Homo sapiens: one gene and its partners. The protein of the gene in region 1 purifies or fractionates together with the protein of each later gene. This does not show direct contact. Each region holds a gene or a part of one and is shown in the gene's direction. Other genes may lie near its edges.

Region 1 (3,776 bases):
GGTATTTCCATTCACCTCTGCTGACTGACCCAATTGGGAGGTGGCAGGGAGGAGATCGCTAGTTGACTGGGCTAATGGAAAGTCAACTAAACTTATAAAGCCTGAAATTGGGAACAGATTGTGAGGACAAAAAAAAAGAAAAGAAAAGAAAACCTGGAATTCGGCCCGGCACGGTGGCTCACAGGAAGTAGTGGGCCAAATGTTTGAGTCTCTGATTGATTCGCTAAGGTTTGTTGTTGTCGTTTAGAGACAGGGTTTCGCTTTGCGGCCTGGGCGGGAGTGCAGTGATGCGATCATGGCACAATGCACCTTTGATTTCCTGGGCTCAAGCAATCCTCCCACCTCAGCCTCCTGAGTGGCTGGGACTACAGGCGCACACCACTACGCCTGGCTAGTTTTATTTTTTGTAGAGGTGAGGTTTCACTGTATTACCCAGGCTGGTCTTGAACTCCTGGGCTCAAGCAATCCTTCCACCTTGGCCTCCCAAAGTGTTGGAACTGCAAGTGTGAGCCACCATTCCTGGTCATTCACTGAGTATTTATTGAGTCCCTACTATTTGCAAGGCACCAAGGAGACACCATGACTAAAACAGGCAAAGATTCCTGCCTTTATGGAGTTTATATCCTGTGTGTGGAGAAAGAACAGCAACACATAGGCTAGTACCATGTATCCTGGCACATAGTGAAATGCTCTGCCAAGGTGCCAAGAAGGGAGGGAGGCTGCAAGTGCTGGAGGGGCATCGAAGAAGGCCTCCCTCATGAGAGATTGGAGGTGAGACCTGAAGGAGGTGAGGAGAGCTAGGCTGAAGAAAGCATTCCAGATAGCAGGGCCTGTAGATGCTGTGTTCTAGAGCCAGGGTGGGGCAGGAGGGGCTGTGCTATGTAGGGGTAGGTGGGAGGGATGAGCTGGGGAGATAAAGACAGAGCGATACCAGGCCAGGTCTGAGACAGCCCCCTGGGCTGTCACTGAGACTTTAGCTTTTTGCAGCCTACATAGCAGGGTGACTAACAACATGGTCTGTGGTGCCACACTGCCTGGGTTAGCATTCCAGCTCTGCCTTTTACTAGCTGTGAGGTGGGTTTTTTTCCTTTTTTGAGACAGAGTCTCTCTCTGTCACCTAGGCTGGAGTGCAGTGGCGCCATCTCAGCTCACTGCGACCTCTGCCTCCGGGGTTCAAGTGATTCTTCTGCCTCAGCCTCCTGAGTAGCTGGGACTACAGGCGCGCGTCACCATGCCCAGCTAATTTTTGTATTTTTAGTAGGGATGGGGTTTTACCATATTGGCCAGGCTGGTCTCAAACTCCTGACCTTGTGATTCACCCACCTTGGCCTCCCAAAGTGCTGGGATTACCAGCATGAGCCACCATGCCTGGCCTTTTTTTTTTTTTTTAAATACAGTTTCACTGTGTTCCCCAGGCTGCAGTGCACAATCACCAGTCACTGTAGCCTTGGCCTCCAGGTCTCCAGTGGTCCTCCTACTTTAGCCTCCCAAGTAGCTGGGACCACAGACATGTGTTACCACCACCAGCTAAAGTTTTTATTTATTTATTTATTTTTTGAGATGGCGTCTTTCTCTGTTGCCCAGGCTGGAGTGCAGTGGCGCTATCTCAGTTCACTGCAACCTCTGCCTCCCTGGTTCAAGCAGTTCTGTCTCAGTCTACCAAGTAGCTGGGATTATAGGTATACGCCATGATGCCCAGCTGGTTTTTGTTTTGTTTTGTTTTGTTTTTTGTATTTTTAGTAGAGATGGGGTTTCATCATGTTGGTCAGGCTGGTCTTGAACTCCTGACCTCAAGTGATTTGCCTGCCTCCCTCCATCCCACCATCCCAATTTTTTTTTTTTTTTTTTTTTTAGCTGGAGTCTCGCTCTATTGCCCAGGCTGGAGTGCAGTGGCACGATCTCGGCTCGCTGCAAGCTCCGCCTCCCGGGTTCATGCCATTCTCCTGCCTCAGCCTCCCGAGTAGCTGGGACCACGGGCGCCTGCCACCACGCCTGGCTAATTTTTTAATTTTGTTTAGTAGAGACGGGATTTCACCATGTTAGCCAGGATGGTCTCGATCTGACCTTGTGATCTGCCTGCCTTGGCCTCCCAAAGTGGTGGGTTTACAGGCGTGAGCCGCCACGCCCGGCTAACCCAATTATTTTTTATTTTTATTTATTTATTTTTTGAGGCAGAGTCTCACTCTGTTGCCCAGGCCAGAGTGCAGTGGGGCGATCTCAGCTGGGATTATAGGCTCTCGCCATCCTGCCTGGCTCATTTTTTTATTTTTAGTAGAGATGGGGTTTTGCTGTTTTGGCCAGGCTGGTCTCGAACTCCTGACCTCAAGTGATCCGCCTGCCTCAGCCTCCCAAAGTGCTGGGATTACAGGCTTGAGCCACCATGCCCAGCCAAATTTTTTTATTTTTTGAACTCCTGGCCTCAAGCAGTCCTGTTGCCTTGGCCTCCCAAAGTATTGGGATTACAGGTGTGAGCCACTGTGCCCGGTCACTAGGTGTGAGATCTTGAGTGAGCTACTTAACGGCCTTAAGGGTCCTCATCTGTCCAGTGGAGATAATAATACCTGTCCCATGGGGCTGTTGTGATCATTAAATTAGTTAAAGGACATAAATGTGGGTGAAGTAGTTGACACGGTTGATGCACAGTAAAAGCTAGTCTTTTACTTCTAAGCCATATGGGGTGAGGGGGCATTGGAGAGCTGAGCAGAGGAAGCCTGAGATCTTACTTAGGTTCCCAAAGGCTGTCCTGGCTGCCATGTTGAGACTACAGCAAGGATGGAAACAGGCCAGTCTGGATTCTGCTGTACTAAGCCAGGTAAAAGATGGTGGTGGTGTAGGCTAGATATGTTTGAAGAGAGTTGATGGGGTTTGCTGATGGATTGATTTGATGTGGGCATGCAAGAAATAGAAGAATGTGGGAGGATAAGGTTGGTGAATTGGAGGCAAACTGGTATTTAATTTTAGACATGTTTCTCTCGTGTGTGTGTGTGTTTTGTTTTGTTTGTTTGTTTGTTTGTTTTGAGACAAAGTCTCTGTTGCCCATGTTGGAGTGCAGTGGTCAGATTACAGCTCACTGCAGCCTTGACCGCCTAAGCTCAGGTGATCCTCCCCTCCTAAGCCTCCCAAGTAGCCAGGACTACAAAGGCGTGCCACCATGTCCAACTAATTTTTGTATTTGTAGTGGAGACGGGGTTTTGCCATGTTGTCCAGGCTGGTCTCAAACTCCTGGGCCCAAGCAATCCACCCTCCTTGGCTTCCCAAAGTGTTGGGATTACAGGCGTGAGGCACCATGCCTGTCCGACATGTTACGTTTTAAGATGCCTATTCAAGATCTAAGTGGAGATGTTGACTAGGCACTTGGATATACAAAGCTGGAATTCAGACAAGGAAGTTTGGGCTAGAGAGGAAAAGTTGGGAGTTATCAGTATGTATATGTTTATATATTTGTGATTTTTTTTTTTTTTTTTTTTTTTTTTTTTGAGATAGAGTTTTGCTCTTGTTGCCCAGGCTGGAGTGCAGTGCCTTGAATACTGAATTAGTGAATATTGAACCATTGCTCCTAGGGGAAATACAGGGTTAGGTTCCTGCAAGCCTCTGGTCATATTTTGTTCAACCAATCAATATATAACCGATCACTTGTTTTATGTGTGTATCTGTTTGGAGACAACTTACTTGACATAATATTGTTGAATCATTAACAGTGAAGTCAGCCAGGCGCAGTGGCTCACGCCTGTAATCCCAGCACTTTGGGAGGCCGAGGCGGGCGGATCATGAAGTCA
Region 2 (4,345 bases), on another chromosome or scaffold:
AGGGGTTCTGATCCAGACCCCAAGAGAGGATTCTTGTATCTCTTGCAAGAAAGAATTCAGGGCTATTCCATAGAGTAACGTGGAAGCAAGTTTATTAAGAAAGTAAAAGAATAAAAGAATGATTACTTCATAGAGCAGCCCCGAGGGCTGCTGGTTGCCCATTTTTATGGTTATTTCTTGATGACATGCTAAAGAAAGGGTGAATTATTCATGCCTCCCCTTTTTAGACCATATAGTGTAACTTCCTGACGTTGCCATGGCATTTGTGAACCGTCATGGTGCTGGTAGGAGTGTAGCAGTGAGGATTACCAGAGGTCACTCTCATTGTCATCTTGGTTTTGGTGGGATTTGGCTGGCTTCTTTTTTTTTTTTTTCCTTTTGAGTCAGAGTCTCACTCTGTTGCCCAGGCTGGAGTGCAGTGGTGCAATCTCGGCTCACTGCAACTTCCACCTCGCGGATTCAAGCGATTCTCCTGCCTCAACCTCCCAAGTAGCTGGGGTTACAGGTGCCTGCCACCACGCCCAGCTAATTTTTGTATTTTTAGTAGACAGGGTTTCGCCATGTTGGCAGGCTGGTCTCAAACTCCTGACCTCAGGTAATCCGCCCGCCTCAGCCTCCCAAAGTGCTGGGATTACAGGCGTGAGTCACCGAGCCCAGCCTTGGCTGGTTTCTTTACTGCAACCTGTTTTATCAGCAAGGTCTTTATGACCTGTATCTTGTGCTGACCGCCTATATCATCCTGTAACTTAGAATGCCTTAGCCCTCTGGGAATGCAGCCCAGCAGGTCTCAGCCTCATTTTACCCAGCTCCTATTCAAGACGGAGTTGCTCTGGCTCAAATGCCTCTGTCATTTTGAAAGTGTAATGGGTAAGAAAGTGCGTGACGGATAAAGTGTGAGAAAAAATAAACAGGGTTAAACAAGAGGAACGGAGTCCTCAGGGTTGGAGAGGAGTGTGGTTTCATCAGCACGGGCTGGAAAGGCCTTGCTGGGAAGAAAATTGGCCCACAAACTACCCTGGCACCGCCCCCAGCTGCGGATTGGCTCAAGCCCTCAAGATCCAATTGGGCACAAAGGTTGGAGGAGGGAGTTGCAGTTGCAGTTCCTGATTGACTCTGGCAGCCGTGCATCAGCTCCCAGGGGCACACGCCTGTGGGCACAATGCTTCTGCTTCATTGATTGGCTGTAGAAAAAGCTCATGCAGCCTCTGATTGGCTATAAAATAAGCCCATGCAGCCTCTGATTGGCTGCAACATAAGCCCATGCAGCCTCTCATTGGTTGTAAAATAAGCACATGCAGCCTCTGATTGGCTGTGTAAAGTAAGCCCATGCAGCCGCTGATTGGCTGCGGGTGGATGCACTCACCTAAGGATGCGAGCTAGCAGGTCTTGCAGCGGCTATCACGCCCCTCACGCCGCTATCTCTGTGCAGCCGACTGAGGATCCCTAGTCGCATAAGGCTGTGCCTGGCCTGTTGGCGTCCCTGGCAGTTGTTGGGTTCTGGCGGTTGTTGGGTCCCTGGCAGTTGTTGGCGGTTGTTGGGTTCCTTCATTGAAACTGCACTAACTGGGCTTCCAGTCAGCGTCAGTCAGCGGATCCTTGGGCCGTGGGGCAGCCGCAGGTCGGTTAGGCCACCAGGGCGGCTCTCGTGCCAGTGAGGCCCCTGAGAGCCCTTTGGTCAGACAGAGGCTAAATCTGAACAGTCAGGCGGTGAGATTAAGCATAGTCAGGGAGTTCGCCAGGAGCCAGCGTTCCTCAGCCTCCACCACGTCAGTCACCTGGTCAGCCAGAGGGCAGCTGGGGCGACATCCATCTACCAAGAAGGTAAGCAAGCGGCCCGTGGGTTCACAATCAGGTCAGTGCCCTTATGAGTCAACGGTTAGTCCCTTTGAAAATCAGTTCATGAGAAAATCCACTCCCTTCAGAACCTGCCCTGTTCATTGGTTAGTTAGGCTCCCGCTAAGTCGGTCTCTTGGTAAGTTACACCCCTGCAAGGCACCCAGTCATTACTCACACAGTTATCCCATGTGTGTCTATCAGTTTCATTGTTAGTTATCCTGGCTTTCCCTAGAAAATCGTTTTCCTCACCATAAATAGGTCAGTCATTAGTAAGTCAGCCCTTCCCTTAGAAAGCCGAACACCTTTGCATCACTCACACCCTGCTAAGGAAATACACAGATGGAAGTGTGCTGAGAACAGAGAATATCCTGAGCCCTTTGGAACAAGAGACAGAAGGAAAATTGAGAGACATGATGGTGAAGGAAAATTGAGAGACATGGTGGTCAAGGAAAATAGGCTGGGCGCAGTGGCTCACGTCTGTAATCCCAGCACTTTGGGAGGCTGAGGCCGGGGATCACTTGAGGTCAGGAGTTCAAGACCAGCCTGGCCAACATGGTGAAACCCCGTCTCTTCCAAAAATACAAAAATTAGATGGGCATCGTGGCCCGTGCCTGTAGTCCCAGCTACTCGGGAGGCTGAGGCAGGAGAATCACTTGAACCCCGTAGGCAGAGGTTGCAGTGAGCCAAGATCGTGCCACTGCACTCCAGCCTGGGCAACACAGCGAGACTCTGTCTCAAAAAAAAAAAAAGAAAAGAAAAGAAAAAGAAAATATAATGGGTGCATGACGAGTCATCACATGTATGCTCTAAAACTGATGGAGAGAAGAAAGAAGAAATCAGAATTTTGTACTTAAATGGATCATTACATCTCCAGCAGTAAAACCCACTCATGTTACACATGAGGAAATAAGAAGAGGGAAAATACTTGACCACAGTTATTCAGTGCTTTACTGGCAAATCCTGGCCCAGGACCTAGACAAGGCTCATTCCGACCATCTAACATGGGCTTTTAAACAGAAGAAAGGGGAAGGAAAAAAAAATTGACAATGCAAAAAGAAAGTGGATATGTGGCGTGAATGAGAGAGGCATTTAACGACCTGGAAACTTGGGCGATATCTTTTTTATGTGAGAAGGAAAAAGGGCAATCAGTCTGGAGGCTAAGGGTTGGGAGCACAGACCACTCAGAGAGGTCTGTTAAAACATGCCGAAATATGGAATAGGAAAGGACAGGGCTGGTTCCAGAACTCTGGGAAGGGATTAGGGGTGGTCAAGAGTGGTCCCAGGCTGAGTGTGTTGGTTCACGGCTGCAATCCCAGCACTTTGGGAGGCTGAGGTGAGAAGACTGCTTGAGCCCAGGAGTTCGAGACCAGCCTGGGTAACATAGTGAGACTCTGTCTCTACAAAAAAAATTTTTTCATTAGCTGGACCTGGTGGCTTGTGCTTATAGTCCCAGCTACTCTGGAGGCTGAGGTGGGAGGATCACTTGAGCCTGGAAAGTCGAGGCTGCAGTGAGCCATGTTCATGCCACTGCACTCCAGACCCTGTGTTAAAAAAAAACAAAAAAAAAGTGGTTCCAAGTTAAATGCTGATAGGAGCTAAGCAGGGAACCTAATACATAGTAACTAACATTTTTTGATTGCTTACCAAATGTGAGGTTCTGTTCTACTGACTCATTTAATCTTAACAACAACTCTAAGATGGGTGCTATTATTATCCATGTTTTTAAAATGAGCAAGTAGGCCTAGAGAGAGGTGAAGCTACTTGCACACTATAAAACAGCTAACCTTCATATCTAGGCAGTTTGACTTGAATTTAAAATTTAAAAAAAAGAGAGAGAGAGAAGCTGGTTGTTTGAATTTTTTGTGAAGTGCTCTGATTATTAAATGTTATCCCATTTTAAAAGTTAGTTTTAAAAAGTAAGCATTTGTAGGCCAAACAAAATTCATTTATGATTGTTTTTAGTCTCTGAAGCAGGCTGACAGTGAGGGAAGTGACTTACCCAGAATCACCCAGGAAGTAGCGACAAAGATTAGGTCTTCTGACTTCTGGTCCACTTCCAGGAAAAATCTAAGTATACTGTGTGTCACATCAGGGCTAGCTGATTTATTCTTATATTTTATTCATGAGGAAGTGAATTTGGAGAGGAGAATGAACTTCACCATGCTTATACAGCAGTTTTTAAGGCAAAATAGAATCATGAAAAAGACACCACAGTTGTAGTCAAAGGTTGAGTCTGAAATCTATGAACGTAACGGCTGCATGTCTTGGGGCCAGTCATAGTACTTTTGTGGATCTCTGCCTTCCTTTTGGAAGTGTTGATAATGAGATGTACCTCACAGAGTTGTTGAGACTAAGATAAAAGATAAAATTTCTACGTCTCTAGAGTTGTAAATGGCAACCATAGTTTCTCATTAGATGTTAACCAAAAAAGTAGTTAACAGTCATGGCATGATTCAGTCATTCCCAATTGATTCACAGCAGGGCACAGTGGCTCATGCCTGTAATCCTA
Region 3 (3,776 bases), on another chromosome or scaffold:
TATCTCCTTTTCTAGATTGTAAACTCCTTAAAGTCAGGAAGAAGGTTATCTTCTTGACCTTGCATTCCTTTACTAACACGGTGTTTTAAAAGTAGTTTGTGATTTTAAAATGTTTGAATTAAGTTGGTAAGAAATTTCTGAAAGGCTTGAAGTTTCTGGGTCCACTGGTAGTTTACATTTAAATGACAATTCGTCTTTTTATTAGTCAAAAAGAAAAAAAGTACCATTGCATACAAAGTGGTTTATAGAAATGTTTGCTTGGTACATGTTGCAATATAATTGTTGAACTAGATTAGAGTTCCATTTTCTGTGGTGGAATTCAGTTACTGCAGGAATTTGTGTATTTCACACAGAAAACTGATTTATAGTATTCTGTTTTTAGTATCTGGCCTAGTAATTTTAAGAATTTTGTTTTGTTTAATACTGAACCAGTGTATACTTAAAAATAATTGGGCCCAATCTTGAGTTTTAAAAAATTGATTTTATTGTTTAACATGCCTATTTCTTGTCTCTGCTAGTATCCTAATAATATCCTGCTATACAGTATCCTGTTATCCTAATTTATTACATTTAGGACCTGTTAGTCCAAAGGCACTGTGACCTTGTCGAATGCCCAGGAATAAGATTTGGTGATTTTTGCCTTTTAGGAATTCATAGTGTAGTGGAGAAGACAGGCAAGCAGAAGTAATTTTTTTTTTTTTTTTTTTTTGAGACGGAGTCTCGCTCTGTCGCCCAGGCTACAGTGCAGTGGCGCGATGTCGGCTCACTGCCAGGTCCGCCTCCCGGGTTCATGCCATTCTCCTGCCTCAGCCTCCCCAGTAGCTGGGACTACAGGTGCCCACCACCACGCCCGGCTAATTTTTTTTGTATTTTTAGTAGAGATGGGGTTTCACCGTGTTAGCCAGGATGGTCTCGATCTCCTGACCTCGTGATCCACCTGCCTTGGGATTACAGGCGTGAGCCACCGCACCCGGCCGAACAGTATTTAATTTAATTAATTAATTAATTTTTTGGTGGCGGAGTCTTGCTCTGTCGCCAGGCTGGAGTGCAGTGGCGTGATCTTGGCTTATTGCAACCTCTGCCTCCCAGGTTCAAGCGATTCTCCTGCCTCAGCCTCCCAAGTAGCTGGGACTACAGCGCGCTACCGCGCCCAGCTAATTTTTGTATTTTTAGTAGAGACAGGGTTTCACCATGTTGGCCAGGATGGTCTGGGTCTCTTGACCTTGTGATCCGCCAGCCTCGGCCTCCCAAAGTACTGGGATTACAGGCTTGAGCTACCGCGCCCGGCCATGAACAGTATCTTCATTCAAAGCCAGTAGAACGTTCCTGCTCTGCCTATCTAGCCTTTGGAAAGGAATTGAAACTTAGTAAATTACTTTTTATAGGTTGCCAGTGCTGGCATGTCATAAAAGGCTGGGATTCTGTTTAATTTTGTACAGTACTGAACGTAGGTGTTTCATGTGTGTTTGTGTTTTCATATACCTTTATATGAGATATTCTTTCTAATAATATAGTTTTTCTTTTTGAGACAGTCAGGCTGTGTTGCTGAGGCTGGAGTGTAGTGGCACCATCTCAGCTCACAGCTACCTCCACCTCCCCGGTTCAAGCGATTCCCATGCCTCAGCTTCCCAAGTAGTCGGGATGACAAGCGTATGCAGCCGTGGCTGGCTGCTACATTTCTTGTTTTTAGTAGAGACGGGGTTTCACCATGTTGGCCAGACTGGTCTCTAACCAACTCCTGACCTCAGCCATTCTCCCGCCTTGGCCTCCCAAAGTGCTGAGATGACAGGTGTGAGCCACAGTGCCTGGCCTATTTCTTTCTTTTTTTTTTTTTGAGACAGAGTCTCGCTCTGTCGCCCAGGCTGGAGTGCAGTGGCACGATCTTGGCTCACTGCAAGCTCCGCCTCCCGGGTTCACGCCATTCTCCCTCCTCAGCCTCCCGGGTACCTGGGACTACAGGTTCCCGTCACCACGCCCTGCTAATTTTGTTTCTGTATTTTTAGTAGAGACGGGATTTCACCTTGTTAGCCAGGATGGTCTCGATCTCCTGACCTCGTGATCCGCCCGCCTTAGCCTCCCAAAGTGCTGGGATTACAGGCGTGTGCCACCGCGGCCCGGCCATACACTTTTGTTTGTTTTGAGACTTGTTTGTTTTGAAACGGGGTTTCGCTCTTGTTGCCCAGGCTGGAGTGCAATGGTGCAGTGTCGGCTGACTGCAATCTCCGCCTCCCGGGTTCAAGTGATTCTCCTGCCTCAGCCTCCCAAAGTAGCTGGGATTATAGGCATGCGCCACCACACCTGGTTAGTTTTCTGTATTTAGTAGAGACGGGATTTCACCCTGTTAGTGAGGCTGGTCTTGAACTCCTGACCTCAGGTGATCCACCCACCTCAGCTTTCCGAAGTGCTGGGATGACAGGTGTGAGCCACCGCGCCTGGCCCCTATTTCTAATAATAGAGTGTTTCGATGTTCTCTGTAGTGTGCTTAAATTGGAAAAGTCTTAAAACCAATTTTGCCCTATAGATTCAAAGGCTGTTAAATTTGAAAAACTTTATTAAACATTTTTTTGAACTCCTTTGTGCTAGGCACCATGATGAAGTCTGGAGAAATAAGTACTCCTCTTTTCTAGAAGCTTGGATATGAAAGGGAGGAAGACAGAATATAGTAAAGCACAATGTTACATGTATTATTAAGTGCTAGAACCTGGATTCAAAGTTTGAATTAGAAATACGTTAGCCTGTGTTGCTATAAAGGAATATGTGAAACTGGATAATTTATGAAGAAAAGAGGTTTATTTTGCCTCATGGTTCTGCAGGCTGTGCAGGCATGACACCAGCAGCTGCCTACCTTCTGGTGAGGGTGTCAGGAAGCTTCCAATCATGTCAGAAGGCAAAGGGAGAGCAGGATACTCACATGATGAGAGTGGGGAGTGAGGAGGTACCAGGCCTTTTTTTTTTTTTTTTTTTTAAAGACAGGGTCTCACTGTCGCCTAGGCTAGAATTCATTGGTGCAGTTATGGCTCACTGCAACCTTGACCTCCCAGGCTCAAGCAATCCCAGTAGCTGGGACTACAGGCAGGCGCCACCACACCTGGCTAATTATTTTTCGTAGAGATGAGATTTCGCCATGTGGCCCAGGCTGGTGTCAAATTCCTGGGCTCAGTCAGTCTGCCTGCCTCAGCCTCCCAAAGTGCTGGGAGCCACCATGCCTGGCTTTAAACAGCCAGATCTCATGTGAATTCATTACTGTGGAGAGGACACCAACCCATTCATGAGGGGTCCTCTCCCATGACCCAGACACCTCCTACCAGGCCCCACCTCCAACACTGGGGATCACATTTCAGTATGAGATTGGGAGGGGACAGTTATACAAACCACATTAGGTTTATTTTTTATATTTTTAGAAACAGGATCTTGCCCAGGCTGGAGTGCAGTGGCCTGATCATAGCTTACTGCAACCTACAACTCCTGGTCTTAAGAGATCCTTCCGCCTGAGCTTCCCAGAGTGCTGGGTGTACAGGCATAAGCCATCATGTCTGGCCACAGTTTAAATACTGTGGCTTTATTCTCTTAGAGCTAGTACTTCTATATCATCTTTGTTTTGCATTCAAACAACATAACAAAACTCACCCAGCCTAAGAAATAGAACATTTACTATATTTCATTTTCCAAAAAATGCTTTTTGTGTGTTATCCTTTGGACTTTGGATTTTGTGAAAATCTTTCCAAAATTGTATTGAGATGATTTTGATTGAAGTATAGGGATCATGGAACTTTTTT
Region 4 (3,776 bases), on another chromosome or scaffold:
GGCAGAGGCCCAGGGAGGGGTTAACGTTAGCATGGGGCCCGGCGGATGTGGGTCTCGCCGCTGAGTGGGGCTCACTGAAGCCTGGGTCTCCCCGATGGCAGGGCCGGGAACTGTGTGCTGGGGAACTGTGTGCCAGGGTGAAGTGCTGGCACTGTGGGGTCACCTGCAGAAGGGCACTCGGCTTAGCTGCTTAGCAGGGCTCAGCAGGGTCCTGTGGCCTCAGGAGCCTGCAGGAGGAGGGAGGGCAGTGCGGACCCACAGCTGTGGGCCCAGGGGTGATCCTTGGCACCAGGGCAAGGGTCTTTCTCTTGCATCTTTTTTCCTTTCTGAAAGCAGACCTCCAGGTTCCTCCTACTTCCGCTATGCTGAGTCTTCCATGAAGAACAGCTTCGGCCTAAAGTACCTTCATAAGTTCTTCAATATCCCATTTTTGCAGCTTCAGGTAAGCACTCACCACGTGGGGTGGAGTGGCTGCTGGTCTCTCACCTCCTTCCAGGTGTCTCCTGTGTAGCAACGGGTCTCCCTCCTAACCCCTGAGAAAGCTGTGGACCTGCTCGGAGATTGGCTGCTGGCAAGGGCCCAGCGTTCTACTGCACCTGCCTGCTCTGGGTGGCAGAGGGTACAGGGTCCTGAGGGCTAGACCCAGTCCCAGGAGCCCCTCCACCTCTGCGGGGACCCCTTGCTCAGTTTCCCCCAGTGTTTTTGGTTGTTTTTGTTTGTTGAGATAAGGTCTTGCTGTGTGGCCCAGGCTGGAGTGCAGTGGCGCAATCATGGCTCACTGCGGCCTCAAACTCCGGGGCTCAGGCAATCCTCCCACCTGTCTCCCAAAGTGCTGGGATGCCAGGCGTGAGTCACCGAGGTACTCGCTGTTCACATCTCACATTTCCCTGGTGCTTGTGTCAAAACCAAGGAACCAACTTTGGCCTACGGACTAAACTCACTTTCCTTTGTAGAAACAAGGGCCAGGCCAGCTGTGGCTGCAAAGTAGCCCAGCAAATGATGAGGCTTGAACCTCCTCGCCCTGGGCTGCCCTGATTGGGTCTGGGGGACCTGAACCTCCTCGCCCTGGGCTGCCCTGACTGGGTCTGGGGGACCTGAACCTCCTCGCCCTGGGCTGCCCCAGCTGGGTCTGGGGACCTGAACCTCCTCGCCCTGGGCTGCCCCGCCTGGGTCTGGGGACCTGAACCTCCTCGCCCTGGGCTGCCCCGCCTGGGTCTGGGGACCTGAACCTCCTCGCCCTGGGCTGCCCCACCTGGGTCTGGGGACCTGAACCTCCTCGCCCTGGGCTGCCCCAGCTGGGTCTGGGGGACCTGAACCTCCTCGCCCTGGGCTGCCCCAGCTGGGTCTGGGGGACCTGAACCTCCTCGCCCTGGGCTGCCCCAGCTGGATCTGGGGGACCTGAACCTCCTCGCCCTGGGCTGCCCCGCCTGGGTCTGGGGGACCTGAACCTCCTTGCCTGGGCTGCCCCGCCTGGGTCTGGGGGACCTGAACCTCCTCGCCCTGGGCTGCCCCAGCTGGGTCTGGGGGACCTGTACCTCCTCGCCCTGGGCTGCCCCGCCTGGGTCTGGGGGACCTGAACCTCCTCGCCCTGGGCTGCCCCGACTGGGTCTGGGGGACCTGAATCTCCTCACCCTGGGCTGCCCCAGCTGGGTCTGGGGACCTGAACCTCCTCGCCCTGGGCTGCCCCAGCTGGGTCTGGGGGACCTGAACCTCCTCGCCCTGGGCTGCCCCGACTGGGTCTGGGGGACCTGGGGCCCAGCTGCAGCTGCAGCAGCCTTGGTCTTTCTCCAGAAGGATGTCAGGCTTGCCCAGGAAAGGGGCTGTGCTGTCGTCCTGGTGTCAGAAGAAGTGAGGATGCCTGCAGGCTGGGACTGCTGCTGGGGACGTTTGGGTTGGAAGGAAGGCGGCAGTCAGACTTGTCCTGTGCCGGCACTGCTGGGGAGGCCCCTCCTTCCTGCAGAGCCGTCCCCTCATCACTGGGTTGATTACTCCTTAGAGAGCTCCCCACTGCTCAGCTGCTCCATTCCCTAATGGTTTGCCCTCCAAACCCTTCCAAAGCCTCCCAGGGAGAGAACGGGACCCTGGACAGAGTCTTGAGCTGGAAGCGTAGGGCTGAGCTGTGTGTGACTATCCTTTTGCTATGGATGTGTTCAAGCAGATCTGATGTCCTCGCCTGTCTCAGCAGCGGGACCCCTGTTTCCTCTTTGTCTTGCCCCTGGATTGCCTGGAAGCAAATTTCAGGCCTTCTTTATGTCACCTAAAAATATTTCAAACACATCTCTAAAAAAATCAGTTGTTTTTTTAACCTGACCGTAGTACCTAATGTAATACCGCATGTTAAACTCACAGAAGGTTTTTCTTGGAGAAATAAGCCACAATAACAAATTGAAAAAATAAAATTCCCAAAGAGTTCTTCCAGTCGTCAGATATTTGGTCAGTATTCAGAGTAGGATCCAGAGTTCACACATTACATTTGGTTGACAAGTCTGTAGATTTCTCTTTGTAAATCACATTTTTTTGTTGTTGTTATAGCCTGGGGACCTTAATGACTTTAATACACTCTTTTTTTTGGAGACGGAGTCTCACTCTGTCCAGGCTGGAGTACGGTGGTGCAATCTTGCCTCACTGTAACCTCTGCCTCCTGGGTTCAAGCGATTCTCCTGCCTAAGCCTCCCAAGTAGCTGGGATTACAGGCGCCTGCCACCACGCCTGGCTAATTTTTGTATTTTTAGTAGGGACGGGGTTTTGCCATATTGGCCAGGACGGTCTCGATCTCTTGACCTCGTGATCTGCCCGCCTTGGCCCCCCCAAAGTGCTGGGATTACAGGTGTGAGCCACCACGCCCAGCCTCACATTTTTATTTTAAAAACCTCTCCAGGCTGGGCGCAGTGGCTCACGCCTATAATCCCAGCTGTTAGGGAGGCAGAGGTGGGAGGACAGCTCGAGCCCAGGAGTTCCAGATCTTCTGCCTGGGCAATATAATATAGCATGACCCTGTTCTAAAAAAAAAAAAAAAAAAAAAATCTCTGAAAAAGATGATTCAAAAAAAAAAAAAGGAGAGGCCAGGCAAGTAGCTCAGGCCTGTAATTTCAGCAGAGGCCAAGCTGGGAGGATCACTTGAGTCCAGGAATTAGAGACCAGTCTGGGCAACATAGCGAGACCCCATCTCTATTTAAAAAAAGAGAAGGGGCCGGGCACGGTGGCTCCCGACTGTCATCCTCGCACTTTGGATGCTGAGGCAGCTGGATCACCTGAGGTCAGGAGTTCGTGAGGCTCCGGCGTTTGTATTTCATTTGAATCTAAAGTGAGCAGCCACAGGGACCCGCAGCTCATCAGACCAGCCTGGGGTTCCAGGCCAGGAGGGCAGTGGTTTGCTCCAGAGCCAGCTGCTTGTGGGTGTGGGACGGTGGCGACGCGTGCACCGGGGATGTGTCCTGCCACCAGAGGAGGTGTGCGTGGCGGGGAGCAGAGGGGCTTTGTTTCCCAGGTGAAGGTGCGGCTTCTTCACTCTTAGAGGTGCGTGTGTGGGTGGGGGTGCTTGCTGTTGAGGTTTATGCCTGTGACTGACAGCTGTCCCCCAAGCCATGCTGGCAGTGTGTAGGTGTCGTGCCGGCCACCGCAGAGGAATCCTCTGGGCTTCTGTGGTTCAAGTGGGGCCCAGCGCAGAGCTCCATGAGTTGCTGAGCAGCCAGCCCTGCAGCATCTCCTGGTTTTGGCAGCAGGAGGCGTCCCCTGTGCATTCAGGGGCTGTGGGGCTGGGGCACTCGCAGCAGGAA
Region 5 (3,776 bases), on another chromosome or scaffold:
GGTTTTTTTCTGTCATTCTTAAGGAGATTGGGTTTTATTCTAAAGGCAGATGAGGCATCATTGAGTGTGTAAGGAGAAGAGAAACATTTAACCTGGTTTTAGAAAGGACACCCTGGCAGCAGTGTAGACACTGCGTTGTGAGGATTTCTTCAGGGAGAAGATTGTTGTAGTCATCCAGTTGAGACATCATGAGCATCACCAAGTCATTGTCATTGGGTTCACCAGTTAGGGTGCTTGTGACAAGTGACAGAAAAGTCAGCTTGACTAAGACAGGGAATTTATTGACTTGTGTAAATGAAAAGACCCTGTGTTAGAAATGTCTTGCAGTATGGTTTGAACCAGAGACTCACAGTTGTCACACTGGGGCTCTAGCTCTTATTTTCTGTGTCCTTTTCACTCTGGGTTCGTTCTCAAGTTGGTTCTGTGCTCTGGCTGCCCTCTCAGGGTGGTAGCAATGGTTGCAACAGTTTCGGACATTACCTCCTCACATTCCATTGCCCGGAGAAAGTGAGTGTCTCATTTATAGCAACAGTTTCGGACATTACCTCCTCACATTCCATTGCCCGGAGAAAGTGAGTGTCTCATTTATAGCAACAGTTTCGGACATTACCTCCTCACATTCCATTGCCCGGAGAAAGTGAGTGTCTCATTTATAGCAACAGTTTCGGACATTACCTCCTCACATTCCATTGCCCGGAGAAAGTGGGAGTGTCTCATTTATATACGTGTGTGTGTAGAGCTGGCCTGGAACTCCTGGCCTCAAGTCATTGTCCCACCTCAGCCTCCTAACGTGCTGGGATTACAGCACTTTGCTGGGCACAGCTCCAGGCCTCTTTTCTTTTAAGTCCTCCATCACTCTCACCTTCCAGCCTCACTCCCAAGATTCTTTCCCAGAAGTTCCAGCAAACATATCCGTTCACGTTAATGGCTTGAATTAAGTTAACTTGTGGTGCTGTGGGTAGAAAGAATATACTGATGAATCCACTCTGGAGTTGAGAGGAGTTCCCAAAGGAAAATATGGATATTAGAGCAAGAGAGGTTATCAATGGATAGATTGGAGGGAAGAGAATAATTTTAAGAGACATTTTAAAATAGAATGGGAAAGTGAGGGAGAGGGAGACATCTGGATTATTCTCAGGTTTAGGTGAAGGGATAGATGTTGATTTCCTTTGCCAAAATAGGAATGGAGGAAAAGTAGATTAAAGGTGTGTGAAAAGAAAATAAAAACTTGGGACCCCAGTTCACTATGCCAAAAGGAAAAAATTAAGCTGAAAGCTGAGTCGTGCAAGAAACTGCCTTTCCTTTTGTTCCTAAGCAGGTAGCTACAGATAAAAAATTAAATATCTCTACAGGTAGCTACTCTATGTTCACCGTATCTTACGTGAAGTGCCGATTTACTGAGCACCAGATGAATACATAATTGACTATTCCTCTACCTGCTCCTTTTCTCTTGCAACATATAGATTACCATACCCTTCTTTCCCCTCCAGCTCACTTTTCCCCTTGAAATATTGAAGCCCTCAAAATCATCTTTGGAGAAAGGCACAGACCTCTCTCCTGGGCGTGTCCTTAACGTTGGCAAAATAAACTTCTAAATTGATTGAGGCCTGTCCCAGATACTTTTTGGTTTACAGGTGTAAGATGATTAATCCAGGAATTGGAAAAGTAGTATTATGTCCCTTTCTTCAGTCTTCTTTCCTGTGTTAACATCCCTAGCTCCCTCATCCGTTCCTGGTATGACCTAGGTGCAAGTGTTTGAACACAGCCCTCTCAGAAGAGGCTCTTAGAACTGCAAATAACAGCATATCTAAGACAGTTCATGAAAGAGCAATCTGTTGTTTCCCTGCACTCTTCTTCTTCTATACTTAATGCTTTCTGGGGATTGCTCTAGTTTTTAGCATTTTCCTTGCTGACTTTGCTGTATATTAGAATTCTGAGCCTTTTTTTCTTCTTTTTAATAGGAGCTGCTCATCTAGGTTTTGTTCATTTTCTACTGTTCACTTGATGTTTCGGAATGAAATGTAGGAATTTGTAGTTTTCCTTGTTGCATTTTATTTGTTTAAATTTGGCCAAGAATTCTAGCTCTTGAAATTTTTTCAGAGCATTCAATGTTTCATTCAATGTATCTGCTTACCATTTCTTAGCTGTGTGCCATTCTTGATTTTTAAAAAACTTTTTGTTAAAGACATTTTCAAACATAAGCAAAAGTTGAGAGAGTAGTAAAATGAATCCATATCATCCTGCTTCAGCAGCCATCAATACATGGTCAGTCTTGTGTCATGGGTATCCCCACCCACTTTTCCCCCCATTCACTGGATTATTTTGAAGCAAATCCTAGACATTGGATCATTTTTCATCCTTAAATGCTTCAGTATGCATCTCTAAAAACAGATTCTTATTAAAATGTAGCCACAATACCATTGTCACACCTAAAAAGTCAATACTTCCTTGATGTCATTAAATATCTAGTTGGTGTTCAAATTTTTCCCACCATGTTATAATTTTTCTTTTTTTCTTTCTTTTTTTACAATTTTACCTTTGATTATGATCAGCATGTTTTCTCTTTTTGTTTGTTTTTTCTCAGGCTGGAGTGTAGTGGCAGGATCTGAGTTCACTGCAACCTCTGCCTCCCAAGTTCAAGCAATTGTCCTGCCTCATCCTCCTGAGAAGCTGGGATTACAGGCATCCACCACCACGCCTGGCTAATTTTTTTTGTATTTTTAGTAGAGACGGAGTTTCACCATGTTGGCCAGGCTGGTATCGAACCCTTGACCTCAGATGATCTGCCTGCCTTGGCCTCCCAGAGTGCTGGAGTTACAGACATGAGCCACCATGCCCAGCCTCAGCATGTTTTCTTGATAGGTCAAATTATTTTTTTAAATGTCTTAGTCATTTAAAACTGCTTTTAGAGTCCCACCACTGTATTCATGGAAACGTTTTGTTTAGGGTCATTCAACCAGTTGGTTATTTGGTTGCTCTATTCCATCTTACTCTGTCACCCTGGTTTGCCTCCTTCCTCCTTCCCCACTTCAGTCTATTCTCAATATAGCTGCCAGATAGTATTATGTTGAAGCTTAAGTCAACTCACATCTCTCCCCTCCTCAAAACTCTACAGTGGCTTCCTGGCTTAGATGAAAAGATAGTCTATACATGACCCAAAAGGCCCTATGTAATTCTCTTCCCCATTTGCTTCTACTTTTCTATCTGTCTCACTTTGTTGTGGCCACACTGGCTTCCTCCTCACTGTTCCTTGAATATGCCAAGCATGTTCCCACTTCAGTGCCTTTGCATTTGCTGTTTCCCTTGTTTGAAATGCTCTTCTTTTGGATATCCATGTGCCTTTCCCTTCGTCTTCATGTTTTCTCTCAAACTGCATTTCCTGATGCCTTCTCTGGCCATTCCAGCTAAAATCTTAACTTCCAACACGGTCCTACCCCTTCTCCCTGTCTTATTTTTTCTCCTTAGTATTTATCATTATCTTGTTTATTGTCTCTTTTCCTACTTAGAAAGGAGGCTCTGTGGCCGAGCGCGGTGGCTCACGCCTGTAATCCCAGCACTTTGGGAGGCCAAGGCGGGTGGATCACAAGGTCAGGATTTCAAGACCAGCCTGGCCAACATGGTGAAACGCCGTCTCTACTAAAAATACAAAAATTCTCTGGGCATGGTGGCAGATGCCTGTAATCCCAGCTATTCGGGAGGCTGAGGCAGAGAATTGCTTGAACCCAGGAGGCGGAGGTTGCAGTGAGCTGAGATCGTGCCACTGAAATGCAGCCTGG

The links.
Region 2: the proteins of NUP85 (region 1) and SIGLECL1 purify together in Homo sapiens (co-immunoprecipitation; one large-scale study listed by IntAct). This does not show direct contact.
Region 3: the proteins of NUP85 (region 1) and AHCTF1 purify together in Homo sapiens (pull-down; one study listed by IntAct). This does not show direct contact.
Region 4: the proteins of NUP85 (region 1) and RABL6 fractionate together in Homo sapiens (co-fractionation; one large-scale study listed by BioGRID). This does not show direct contact.
Region 5: the proteins of NUP85 (region 1) and RIC3 purify together in Homo sapiens (co-immunoprecipitation; one large-scale study listed by IntAct). This does not show direct contact.

The regions. Positions count from the first base shown.
Region 1 is NC_000017.11:75,219,049-75,222,824, forward strand, and holds part of NUP85 (nuclear pore complex protein Nup85), read left to right. Parts: intron 1-3,776. UniProt on the Homo sapiens protein: Essential component of the nuclear pore complex (NPC) that seems to be required for NPC assembly and maintenance. As part of the NPC Nup107-160 subcomplex plays a role in RNA export and in tethering NUP96/Nup98 and NUP153 to the nucleus.
Region 2 is NC_000019.10:51,249,725-51,254,069, forward strand, and holds the start of SIGLECL1 (SIGLEC family-like protein 1), read left to right. Parts: upstream 1-1,355; 5' UTR 1,356-1,821; intron 1,822-4,345.
Region 3 is NC_000001.11:246,925,236-246,929,011, reverse strand, and holds part of AHCTF1 (protein ELYS), read left to right. Parts: intron 1-3,776. UniProt on the Homo sapiens protein: Required for the assembly of a functional nuclear pore complex (NPC) on the surface of chromosomes as nuclei form at the end of mitosis. May initiate NPC assembly by binding to chromatin and recruiting the Nup107-160 subcomplex of the NPC.
Region 4 is NC_000009.12:136,831,929-136,835,704, forward strand, and holds part of RABL6 (rab-like protein 6), read left to right. Parts: intron 1-333; coding exon of another isoform or gene 334-336; coding exon 337-442; intron 443-1,791; coding exon of another isoform or gene 1,792-2,031; exon of another isoform or gene 2,032-2,491; intron 2,492-3,776. UniProt on the Homo sapiens protein: May enhance cellular proliferation. May reduce growth inhibitory activity of CDKN2A.
Region 5 is NC_000011.10:8,158,775-8,162,550, reverse strand, and holds part of RIC3 (protein RIC-3 isoform a precursor), read left to right. Parts: intron 1-3,776. UniProt on the Homo sapiens protein: Molecular chaperone which facilitates proper subunit assembly and surface trafficking of alpha-7 (CHRNA7) and alpha-8 (CHRNA8) nicotinic acetylcholine receptors.